2 linked regions of the Homo sapiens genome follow. The protein of the gene in region 2 interacts with the protein of the main gene of each other region in a biochemical or structural test. Each region holds a gene or a part of one and is shown on either strand. Other genes may lie near its edges.

Evidence for each region. The genes of interacting proteins can lie anywhere in the genome.
Region 1: the proteins of IRAK2 (region 2) and TOLLIP form a complex in vitro, tested with the Homo sapiens proteins (one study listed by BioGRID).

What each region holds. Positions count from the first base shown.
Region 1 is NC_000011.10:1,291,973-1,296,834, reverse strand, and holds part of TOLLIP (toll-interacting protein), read left to right. Parts: exon of another isoform or gene 1-307; coding exon of another isoform or gene 308-379; intron 380-1,040; coding exon 1,041-1,190; intron 1,191-4,862. UniProt on the Homo sapiens protein: Component of the signaling pathway of IL-1 and Toll-like receptors. Inhibits cell activation by microbial products. Recruits IRAK1 to the IL-1 receptor complex. Inhibits IRAK1 phosphorylation and kinase activity.
Region 2 is NC_000003.12:10,163,079-10,168,601, reverse strand, and holds the start of IRAK2 (interleukin-1 receptor-associated kinase-like 2), read right to left. Parts: upstream 3,684-5,523; 5' UTR 3,648-3,683; coding exon 3,554-3,647; intron 1-3,553. UniProt on the Homo sapiens protein: Binds to the IL-1 type I receptor following IL-1 engagement, triggering intracellular signaling cascades leading to transcriptional up-regulation and mRNA stabilization.

The DNA.
Region 1 (4,862 bases), on a different chromosome or scaffold from region 2:
ACCAGGCCTCCACCCCACTCCTCCATCAACCAGGCCTCCACCCCACTCCACCAGCAACCAGGCCTCCACCCCACTCCACCAGCAACCAGGCCTCCACCCCACTCCTCCAGCAACCAGGCCTCCACCCCACTCCACCAGCAACCAGGCCTCCACCCCACTCCACCAGCAACCAGGCCTCCATCCCACTCCTCCAGCAACCAGGCCTCCACCAGCAACCAGGCCTCCACCCCACTCCACCAGCAACCAGGCCTCCACCCCACTCCTCCAGCAACCAGGCCTCCACCCCACTCCACCAGCAGCCAGACCCATGCTCAGGGCCTCATCAGCGACCTTTCACCTGTGGAGCATGGTTTACCCCAGGCCCCTTCGGCCGCTGCAGGTGTGCGGGTGGTTTCGGGATGGCATTGTCCTGCCTGGGCCCATCCTCTCTCTTCCCCTCAGAAGTGGCAGTGGTGGACAGAGGGTCGAGGAGACATAGGATGCAGAGTGGGGAGGTCTTTCGTGGTTGTTTGGAATCGATTTACTTCCTGCGTTCTTCTGGGATACTTTTGAATTTCAGCTGTTTCATGTGGAAACATTTGAAGTATATCAGCAGAGGGTTTTCCAAATCACTTTAGACCTGAGGCTCAGCTTTTGTCTCATTCGTTTGACCAAGTGACCTGCAGTTCAGTGGCCCTGCCTTTAGCTGTGGACAAGGAGAAAGAAGCCGTGGGCACACATGGTGCAAGGGAGACCCTTTAAAATGACCTGAAAACCCACCTGAGCAGGCTTTGAGGACAGGAACCCATTTTTAGCGGCAGAAACCTGCATTTGGGGATCTCCTGAGTGAGGGCTGCACCTGTACCGCTGGGGGCCAGGCCCCAGGCTGGACACCCTTGACCCCTCCGTTTAGAGATGAGGAAACTGAGGCTGAGCACAGTCCAGGACTTGATAAGGACATGGGTGGGGGCGGGGCCGCGGGAATGCCGGGGGCAGCTGCTGTCGGGCTGCTTTGTGCCCCCACCCTGACTCACTGGCCTCTCTGGTCCCCGGCCCCGCAGGTGTACATCGGTGAGCTCCCGCAGGACTTCCTCCGCATCACGCCCACACAGCAGCAGCGGCAGGTCCAGCTGGACGCCCAGGCGGCCCAGCAGCTGCAGTACGGAGGCGCAGTGGGCACCGTGGGCCGACTGAACATCACGGTGGTACAGGTGGGCCTTGGGGCACCCTCCTGCCTGCCTGGGGCTGGTGCGCTCGGTGGGGGTGGGATTTCGGATTTCGGCGTTTATACTGCATTTCCTAAGCGGGCAAACAGAACTTCTGATTCCCGCTTTTCCTGAAACCTGTGTGATGTTGAAAACGATCTGTGTGAAAGATATTGGCATTGACCCCGGGTTCTACCAAACATAACTCAAGTGATGAGTAGTGGGTGTAGGTGGGCGTCTGCTCTGTGTAGGGCCTGGCTCTTCCACCAGGCTTGAGTACGCCCAAGGACACCTCCCGGACCCCCGCCGGCAGCTGGAGGAGGCGCGGCCGGCACCCCCGCCACCTGGTGTGTGCTGCGTGAGTGGCTTCCTGTTGGCCTCAGTGCCGGTGCCTGCACCCTCCCTCCCCACAGAGCAGCCCTCGGTCAGCCTCGGGGCCGGCCCGTGGTTGCTTAGTGGTCTTTCAAGTGAAAGCCAAAATCGGCAGATTGAACGCCGATTTTGATCACACGAAAACCGTCTGTAAGACTGCAGGAAAAGGAAACACACTGTGAGCCACGCAGGCTTTCGTAGAAATGCAGGGAAAGGAGACACACTGTGAGCCACGCAGGCTTTCGTAGAAATGCAGGGAAAGGAGACACACCGTGAGCCACGCGGGCTTTCGTAGAAATGCAGGGAAAGGAGACACACCGTGAGCCACGCGGGCTTTCGTAGAAATGCAGGGAAAGGAGACACACCGTGAGCCACCCGGGCTTTCGTAGAAATGCAGGGAAAGGAGACACACCGTGAGCCACGCGGGCTTTCGTAGAAATGCAGGAAAAGGAGACACACCGTGAGCCACGCGGGCTTTCGTAGAAATGCAGGAAAAGGAGACACACCGTGAGCCACGCGGGCTTTCGTAGAAATGCAGGGAAAGGAGACACACCGTGAGCCACGCGGGCTTTCGTAGAAATGCAGGGAAAGGAGACACACCGTGAGCCACGCGGGCTTTCGTAGAAATGCAGGGAAAGGAGACACACCGTGAGCCACGCGGGCTTTCGTAGAAATGCAGGGAAAGGAGACACACCGTGAGCCACGCGGGCTTTCGTAGAAATGCAGGGAAAGGAGACACACCGTGAGCCACGCGGGCTTTCGTAGAAATGCAGGGAAAGGAGACACACTGTGAGCCACGCGGGCTTTCGTAGAAATGCAGGGAAAGGAGACACACTGTGAGCCACGCGGCTTTCGTAGAAATGCAGGGAAAGGAGACACACTGAGCCATGCGGGCTTTCGTAGAAATGCAGGGAAAGGAGACACACCGTGAGCCACGCGGGCTTTCGTAGAAATGCAGGGAAAGGAGACACACTGTGAGCCACGCGGGCTTTCGTAGAAATGCAGGGAAAGGAGACACACTGTGAGCCACGCGGGCTTTCGTAGAAATGCAGGGAAAGGAGACACACTGTGAGCCACACGGCTTTCATAGAAATGCAGGGAAAGGAGACACACTGAGCCATGCGGGCTTTTGTAGAAATGCAGGGAAAGGAGACACACTGTGAGCCACGCGGGCTTTCGTAGAAATGCAGGGAAAGGAGACACACTGTGAGCCACGCGGCTTTCATAGAAATGCACAAATACAGCAGGCAGAAGAATCGCCGTGGACCTCACAAATAAGACTTGCTTTCAGGGGCTTCATGGTGTGGTGAGCACAGCTACACCGTCACCCCTTCCTCGCGGCGTGTCTCAGACCCTTGCTTGTGCAGCTGTTACTGTGCTGGTGTGGCCGATCCCTCTGCCCACCCAGTGAACTCCCGTAAGCCCATGCATTCCTGTGCCAGCTGCCACCAGGCCAGCCAGTGCCATCACCCGTCCTCAGCCGCCACCTCCTGGCAGGGCCTGGTGACCGCAGGGCACTCCACCTCACACAGTTCAAGCTCCAGAGCTGGCTGGGCCTTGGAGGTGGCCCTGGCGTTGCCCACGCCTCTGGCCCCCCTTGGTCCTCTCCCGCACCCTGGAGCCCACCACAGGCAGCCTGTTTCCTCCACGTGAGCTCACCCAGCCTTCTGTGGCGCAGCTCCAGTGGTGGGAAACATTCCTGCCTCCTCACTGGGCCAGGTAGCTCAGCCCCTGTTTCCTGCTTCTCTTGGCTTCTGGGCGGCCACACAGGTGGTTCCCTGCTTGCGTCCCCTCGCTGCTTCCCCTTGTTGTCTCCTGGGGCCCCAGTGGGATGCCAAGGGGTCTGGTCCTCAGCCCTCCTCCCCTCTCTGCCCACACATCCCGGTGACTTCTGCATCCCTGTGGGTCTAAACACCCATGTGCTGGCCCCAGCCTGAGCCGACCACTCAGCTCCACCCCAGATCCCTAGGTACGGACCATGGCCACATGGCCTCCCCAGGTGTTCCGTGGGCACTCCGGACTCCGTGTGCCCAAGGTGGAGCTCTCGGGCCACCCTCCCGGCTTCTCCCCCGTGTCCGCAGGTGGCTGCCCCACACTCTGGAAGCTGAGGCCCAAAGCCCTCGTGCTGCTGGTGCTCCAGGTTCATGTCCACCTCTTGCCCTTCAGGCCTGACCCTCAGCACAGGCGCCACCTTCAGCCCGTCCAGGCCTGGAGCCCCCCGCACCCACCCACTGCCCCCGCTCAGCCCCTGCAGCGTGGCCAGAGTAGGTCCGTTCCCGCGTGGGCCTTTCTCGTGGGCACTGTCCTGCCGAGCCTGCTCCAGCTGGGCCCATGTTTTCCTCACCCTAGTCACTCCTGACCTTCCTCTTCCCTGGCCGTTCTCCTCCCGCTTCCTGCAGCTCTTCCTCCAGATCCTGCAGCCCGCATACCCGGTCCTCCTAGCTGGTCACTCCCTGCAGTGGTAACGCCGTCTGCTGCGCTGTGTGTCTGCCGCGCATCTCTTGCCCATTGTGGGGAAAGCAGCGGTGCCCGTGTGTCCCCACGGTGTCTGCTGTCTGACGTGCGTCTCTTGCCCGTTGTGGGGGAGGCAGCGGTGCCCGTGTGTCCCCACGGTGTCCACAGTGTCTCCTGCACCAGAACAGCATGTGGTTGTGTGCAGTCATAGTGAATGGGCAGATGCTTCCATAAACATCGAGGAGGTCACTTCAGCAGAGCAGTTGATGTCACAGGACGCTCATCCTAGAGTTTTCTAGCCACAGTGCAGAGGGCAGTGGGAGGAGATGGGAATGAGAGGATGACGCTGAGTGTGGCAGAAGCAGGCAGGATCCAATGTGAGCAGGCATCGGTGACAGGCACGGGCATGCTGGCAGGGGAGTCCCATGTGCCACCCAGAAAGCTGGCTTTGCTCAAAGCCTTTAAAGTTATTAATAAAAATAAGTCATAGCAGCTAGGCAGAGACAGCACAGTTACCTGAAAGCTTTGGAAAATCATGCTGGTCTCAGACTTTCCTGCTACATACTCTCCAGAAAATAGGGCAGTTGCTAAGGAGTTTACAGGGGCAGAGTTTGGAGTGTAAGAGCTGATCTAGCAGATGTGTGGGTGTGCAGCAGAAGGGAATTGGAAGCTGCTAGAGGCTGAGCATGCCTGTCGCCCAGGAGCTTCCGGAAAACTGTCACTCCATAGCATTCCGGAGTACGCTGTGGCCACCCAAGAAACACGCTAAAATTAAGGACCCAAGAATGGGGCAGTTTTGACCTAAAAGGACCGGCCACAGCTTTGATTAGAAGTGAAAGGAGGGAACTTGTA
Region 2 (5,523 bases):
CAGCATTAGTCATTAGGGAAATGCAAATCAAACCACAGTAAGATGCCACTTCACACTGGCTCAGGTGGCTACCATCAAAAAAGCAACAATAAGGCCGGACATGGTGCTCACACCTGTAATCCCAGCACTTTGGGAGGCCGAGGCGGGCAGATCACCTGAGGTTAGGAGTTTGAGACCAGCCTGGCCAACACGGTGAAACCCTGTCTCTACTGAAGATACAAAAATTAGTCAGGCACGGTGGTGCATGCCTGTAATCCCAGCTACTTGGGAGGCTGAGGCACAAGAATCGCTTGAACCCAGGAGGCTAAGGTTGCAGCGAGCCGAGATCATGCCACTGCACTCCAGCCTCAGCGACAGAGCGAGACTCTGTCTCAAAAAAAAAAAAATTAAAAAAAGAAAAAAATAACACATGTTGACAAGGATGTGGAGAAATGGTCATCCTCATACACTGGTGGTTCAGCCACTTTAGAAAACATCTGGTAGCTCCTCAAATAGTTAAACATAAAGCCAGATGCAGTGGCTCACACCTGTAATCCCAGCAATTTGGGAAGGTGAGATGGGCAGATCGCTTGAGCTCCAGAGTTCAAGATCAGCCTGAGTAACATGGTGAAACCTGTCTCTACAAAAAATACAAAAGTTAGCTGGGTGCAGCAGTGCACACCTGTAGTCCAGCTACTCAGGAGACAGGAAGATCGCTTGAGCCCAGGAAGTTGGGGCTGCGGTGAGCTACATTTGCACCACTGCACAAAATCTTGTATGTGAGTGTTCACAGCAGCACTATTCACAATGGCCCAAAAGTGAAAAGAACCCAATGCCCAACAACTGATAAATGAATGAAATGTAGTATATCCATACCATGGAACATTATCCTACAATAAAAAGAAACTGGCTGGGCGCGGTGGCTCACGCCTGTAATCCCAGCACTTTGGGAAGCCGAGGTAGGTGGATTACACGGTCAGGAGATCAAGACCATCCTGGCTAACACAGTGAAACCCCATCTCTACTAAAAATACAAAAAAATTAGCCGGGCATGGTGGCAGGCACCTGTAGTCCAAGCTGCTAGGGAGGCTGAAGCAGGAGAATGGCATGAACCCAGGAGGTGGAGCTTGCAGTGAGCCGAGATTGCGCCACTGCACTCCAGCCTGGGTGACAAAGCGAGACTCCGTCTCAAAAAAAAAAAAAAGAAACTAAGTATTGACGCATGCTACAACATGGATGAACCTCATGTTAGTTGAAACAAGTCAGTCACAGAGCACTATATATTATATGATTCCATTTATATGAAATGTCCAAAATAGGCAATGTCTAAAACTCAGGAAAATGGAAGGAGGGGATTGGAAGTTAACGGGTACAGAGTTTCTTCTTCGGGTGATTAAAATGTTCTAAGATTGATTGTGAAGATGGATACACAGCCCTGTGAATATACTAAATACCACTAAATTGTACTCCTGAAACAGGTGGATTGTATGGTATGTGAATATCTCAGTAAAGCTTTATTTTTTTTTTAAGTCATAGGTATGCCTTCTAATTGAATTTCCTAGAAACAGAAGTTGTTCTGGCATTTGTAACTGAGGGCTGGGCCAATGTGGAAAAAATGAGAGGGAGTCTCACACAAAGTTTGTTCACTGCCCAGGAAACATTCAAAGTAGTGAAGCCAGGTCCAGGAGCAGTGGCTCACGCCTGTAATCCCAGCACTTTGGGAGGCCAAAGCGGCCAAATCACATGAGGTCAGGAGTTCGAGACCAGCCTGGCCAACATGGCGAAACCCCATCTCTACTAAAAACATAAAAATTAGTGGGCGTGGTGGCACATGCCTGTAATCCCAGCTACTCGGGAGGCTGAGGCAAGAGAATCACTTGAATCCAAGAGGCGGAAGCTGCAGTGAGCCGAGATCTCGCCACTGCATTCCAGCCTGGGCCACAGAATGAGACTGTCTCAAAAAAATAAAAATGAAAAGAGAATATTACAACTTATGACTTATAAGAATATTTAACACTTAGGTGTCAGTGCTTTTATACAGTATTTTCATTCCTCACAACTTTATGAAGAAGCTATAATTATCATCTCCAGTTTACATACAGATTCAGAAGCTGAGGCTCAGAGAGGTTAACAAACTGGCCCAAAGTCATACAGCAAGAGCCTGGAATGCAGATCTCCACCTGGAAAGCAGAGACAACAGGCAAGCGGCCTCCCCGCAGAGTCCATGGCCCTCTCCGCCAGTCATCCGTCAGGCACCAACAAACAAAACATATGGAGGCTGTCTGAGTGCCTTCCCACGGAATTATCTAGAACTGTGCACCTTGCAATAGAGTGAAAGTAAGTGCTTGTGCTTAGGCCCCATTATACACACTGAATCTATTAGGACACATCTGATCTCAAAACAGGTTGATAGTCATAAATACTGTGATCAAAACAATGTACACTAAAAGTAAATATCTGATTTTAAAACTATAATGGTAAAGTACATTTAATCACAAATATGATAAATAGGCTGGGCACAGTGGCTCACGCCTGTAATCCCAGCACTTTGGGAGGCCGAAGCAGGTGGATCGCCTGAGATCAAGAGTTCCGGAGGCCGGGCGCGGTGGCTCATGCCTGTAATCCCAGCACTTTGGGAGGCCCAGGGTGGGCGGATCACAAGGTCAGGAGATCCAGACCATCCTGGCTAACACGGTGAAACCCCGTCTCTACTAAGAATACAAAGTTAGCCGGGCGTGGTGGCGGGCGCCTGTAGTCCCAGCTACTCAGAAGGCTGAGGCAGGAGAATGGCGTGAACCCGGGAGGCGGAGCTTGCAACGAGCCTAGATCGCGCCACTGCACTCCAGCCTGGGCGACAGAGTGAGACTCCGTCTTAAAAAAAAAAAAAAAAAAAAAAAAAAATAGTTCAAGACCAGTCTGGCCAACATGGTGAAACCCGGTCTCTACTGAAAATACAAAAAATTAGCCAGGGTGGTAGCGGGCGCCTGTAATCCCAGCTACTCGGGAGGCCGAGGCAGGAAAATCGCTTGAATCCCAGAGGTGGAGGTTGCAGTGAGCCGAGACCGTGCCATTGCACTCCAGCCTGGGCAACAACAGCGAAACTCCGTTTCAATATATATATATATGTTAAATCATAGATCCTTCTAATATACACTAAAACTAAACACACCACACACACACACACACACACCCCCCCAAGAAGTGACAGCACCGTGGGTCCCTACAGGGTCGAGGCTCGCACTTTGCAGGCTGTTGTGGGCTGGATGAGAGGCCACCTGGGGACGTCACCGAGCCAGCAGCGCTGACAGGAGGGCCCCCGTACCCACCGTTCTCTGGACTCAGAGCGCAGTGGCGGCGGCCCCTGCTCGTCGACAGACGTCCTCAGAGACCACGCGGCACCTTCAGGTGACAGGCCGAGGTCCGCGGCGGACCCGGTCCAGGAGGCTCAGCTCGCACGCCCTCGGATCGGGACCCGCTGAACCCGGGTGCCCGAGGGAGCTTGGCGGCCGCTCCAGGCGGGATCGCTGGGGGCTCCGGTCGCCCTGGTCCCCTCCCCTCCCCGGGCCGCACTCACCGAACTCCATCCAGTCCCACTCGCTGAGCGCGTCCATGTTGCGGCACAGGTCGTCCAGCACCCAGGAGGGCAGCTGGTAGATGTAGCAGGCCATGGCACGCTACGGGGCCGGCTCCGGCGCGGGACGACTGGGTCGGACACTGCGGGCTGCGGCTTCTCTAGCCAGGGGCGGACCGGCGGGGAAGTGGGCGGGGCGGGAGGGCACCAGCGTCCCCAGCGGCCACGGGCGGCACGACGGCCCCGCCGGCTCCACCCCAGCGCCGGCCAGAGAATCGGAACTGCGAGGGGAAACTGAGGCCCTGGTGGGAGAAGGCCACACGGGAATTCTGCCGCAGCGGCAGGAGGCCTTCTGACCCCACTTCCATCGGCACTACACCATGCATCATGCGCTCATCAAATACTCCATTAATTACCTACTGTATGCCAGGCAACTCCCTAGGTGTTGGTAATACCTGAATAAGAAACCCTACAGCCGGGCGCGGTGGATCACTCCTGTAATCCCAGTACTTTGGGAGGCCGAGGCGGACGGATCACGAGGTCAGGAGTTCGAGACTAGCCTGGCCAATATGGTGAAACCCCGTCACTACTAAAAATACAAAAATTAGCCGGGCACGGTGGCGCACGCCTGTAGTCCCAGCTACCTGGGAGGCTGAGGCAGAAGAATCGCTTGAACCCTGGAGGCGGAGGTTGCAGTAAGCCCAGATTGTGCCCTTGTACTCCAGCCTGGGTGAAGAGTGAGGCTCTGTCTCAAAAAAAAAAAAAAAAAAAAAAAAAAGCCTACAAAAGCCCTTGCTTTCATAAGACTTACAATCTAGGTGTGGAGAGAAAGACTAACAATAAATAATAAATATAGTATGTTACAGAGTGTCTTAAAGGTAATAAGCACTATTGCAAAAAAAAAAAAAAAGGAAAAAAAGTTGGTTAAAGGGAATCAGGAATTCAGATTGAGCATGGGGAATATTCTATTAAATAGGGTAGTCAGGTAGACTTTACTATAGTAGCTAATATGTATCGTGCAGCTACTATGTGCCAGGCACTGTTGTAGGTGCTGGGAATACCTCTGAAGAGAAGGACAAAATCCTTGTCCTGGAGGGAGACAGACAACAAGCAATAAAAATAGGCAGATAAGCTATGTTGGAGAATGAAAGTAGAAGCCTGGGCAACATAGGAAGATCTTATCTCTACAAAAAACTTTTTTTTTTTGAGACGGAGTCTTGCTCTGTAGCCCAGGCTGGAGTGCAGTGGCGCAATCTTGGCTCACTGCAGCCTCTGCCTCCCAGGTCCCGGTTCAAGCAATTCTCCTGCCTCAGTCTCCCGAGTAGCTGGGATTACAGGCACGCGCCACCACGCCCAGCTAATTTTTGTATTTTTAGTAGAGACAGGGTTTCACTGTGTTGGCCAGGATGGTCTTGAACTCCTGACCTCGTGATCCGCCTGCCTCGGCCTCCCAAAGTGCTAGGATTACAGGCATGAGCCACCACGCCTGGCCTCTACAAAAAATTTTAAAATGAGCCAAGCATGGTAGTGTACACCTATAGTCCCAGCTACTCAGGAGGCTAAGGTGGTAGGATCTCTTGAACCCAGGAGTTTGAGGCTGCAGTGAGCTATGACTGCACTGCAGCCTGAGTGACAGAATGAGACCCTGTCTCTGAAAAAAAAAAAAAAAAAAAGAAAGAAAAGAAAGAATAAAAGTAGAGGGTGGTAAAAGGGAGTGCAAGTGGCCAATTGCATTATCTTAGATGATACTATTACTGGGAAAAAAGCAGAGTATGGTGCAGGGGACTGCAGGACAAACTGGATTATTAAATAGGGTATAAGGGGCTGGGTGCGGCGGCTCCCACCTATAACCCCAGCACTTTGGGAGGCAGAGGCAGGCAGATCGCTTGAGCCCAGGAATTCGAGACCAGCCTGGGAAACAGAGCAAGACCCTGTCTCTACAAAAATTAGCCAGGCATGGTGGCATGTGCCTG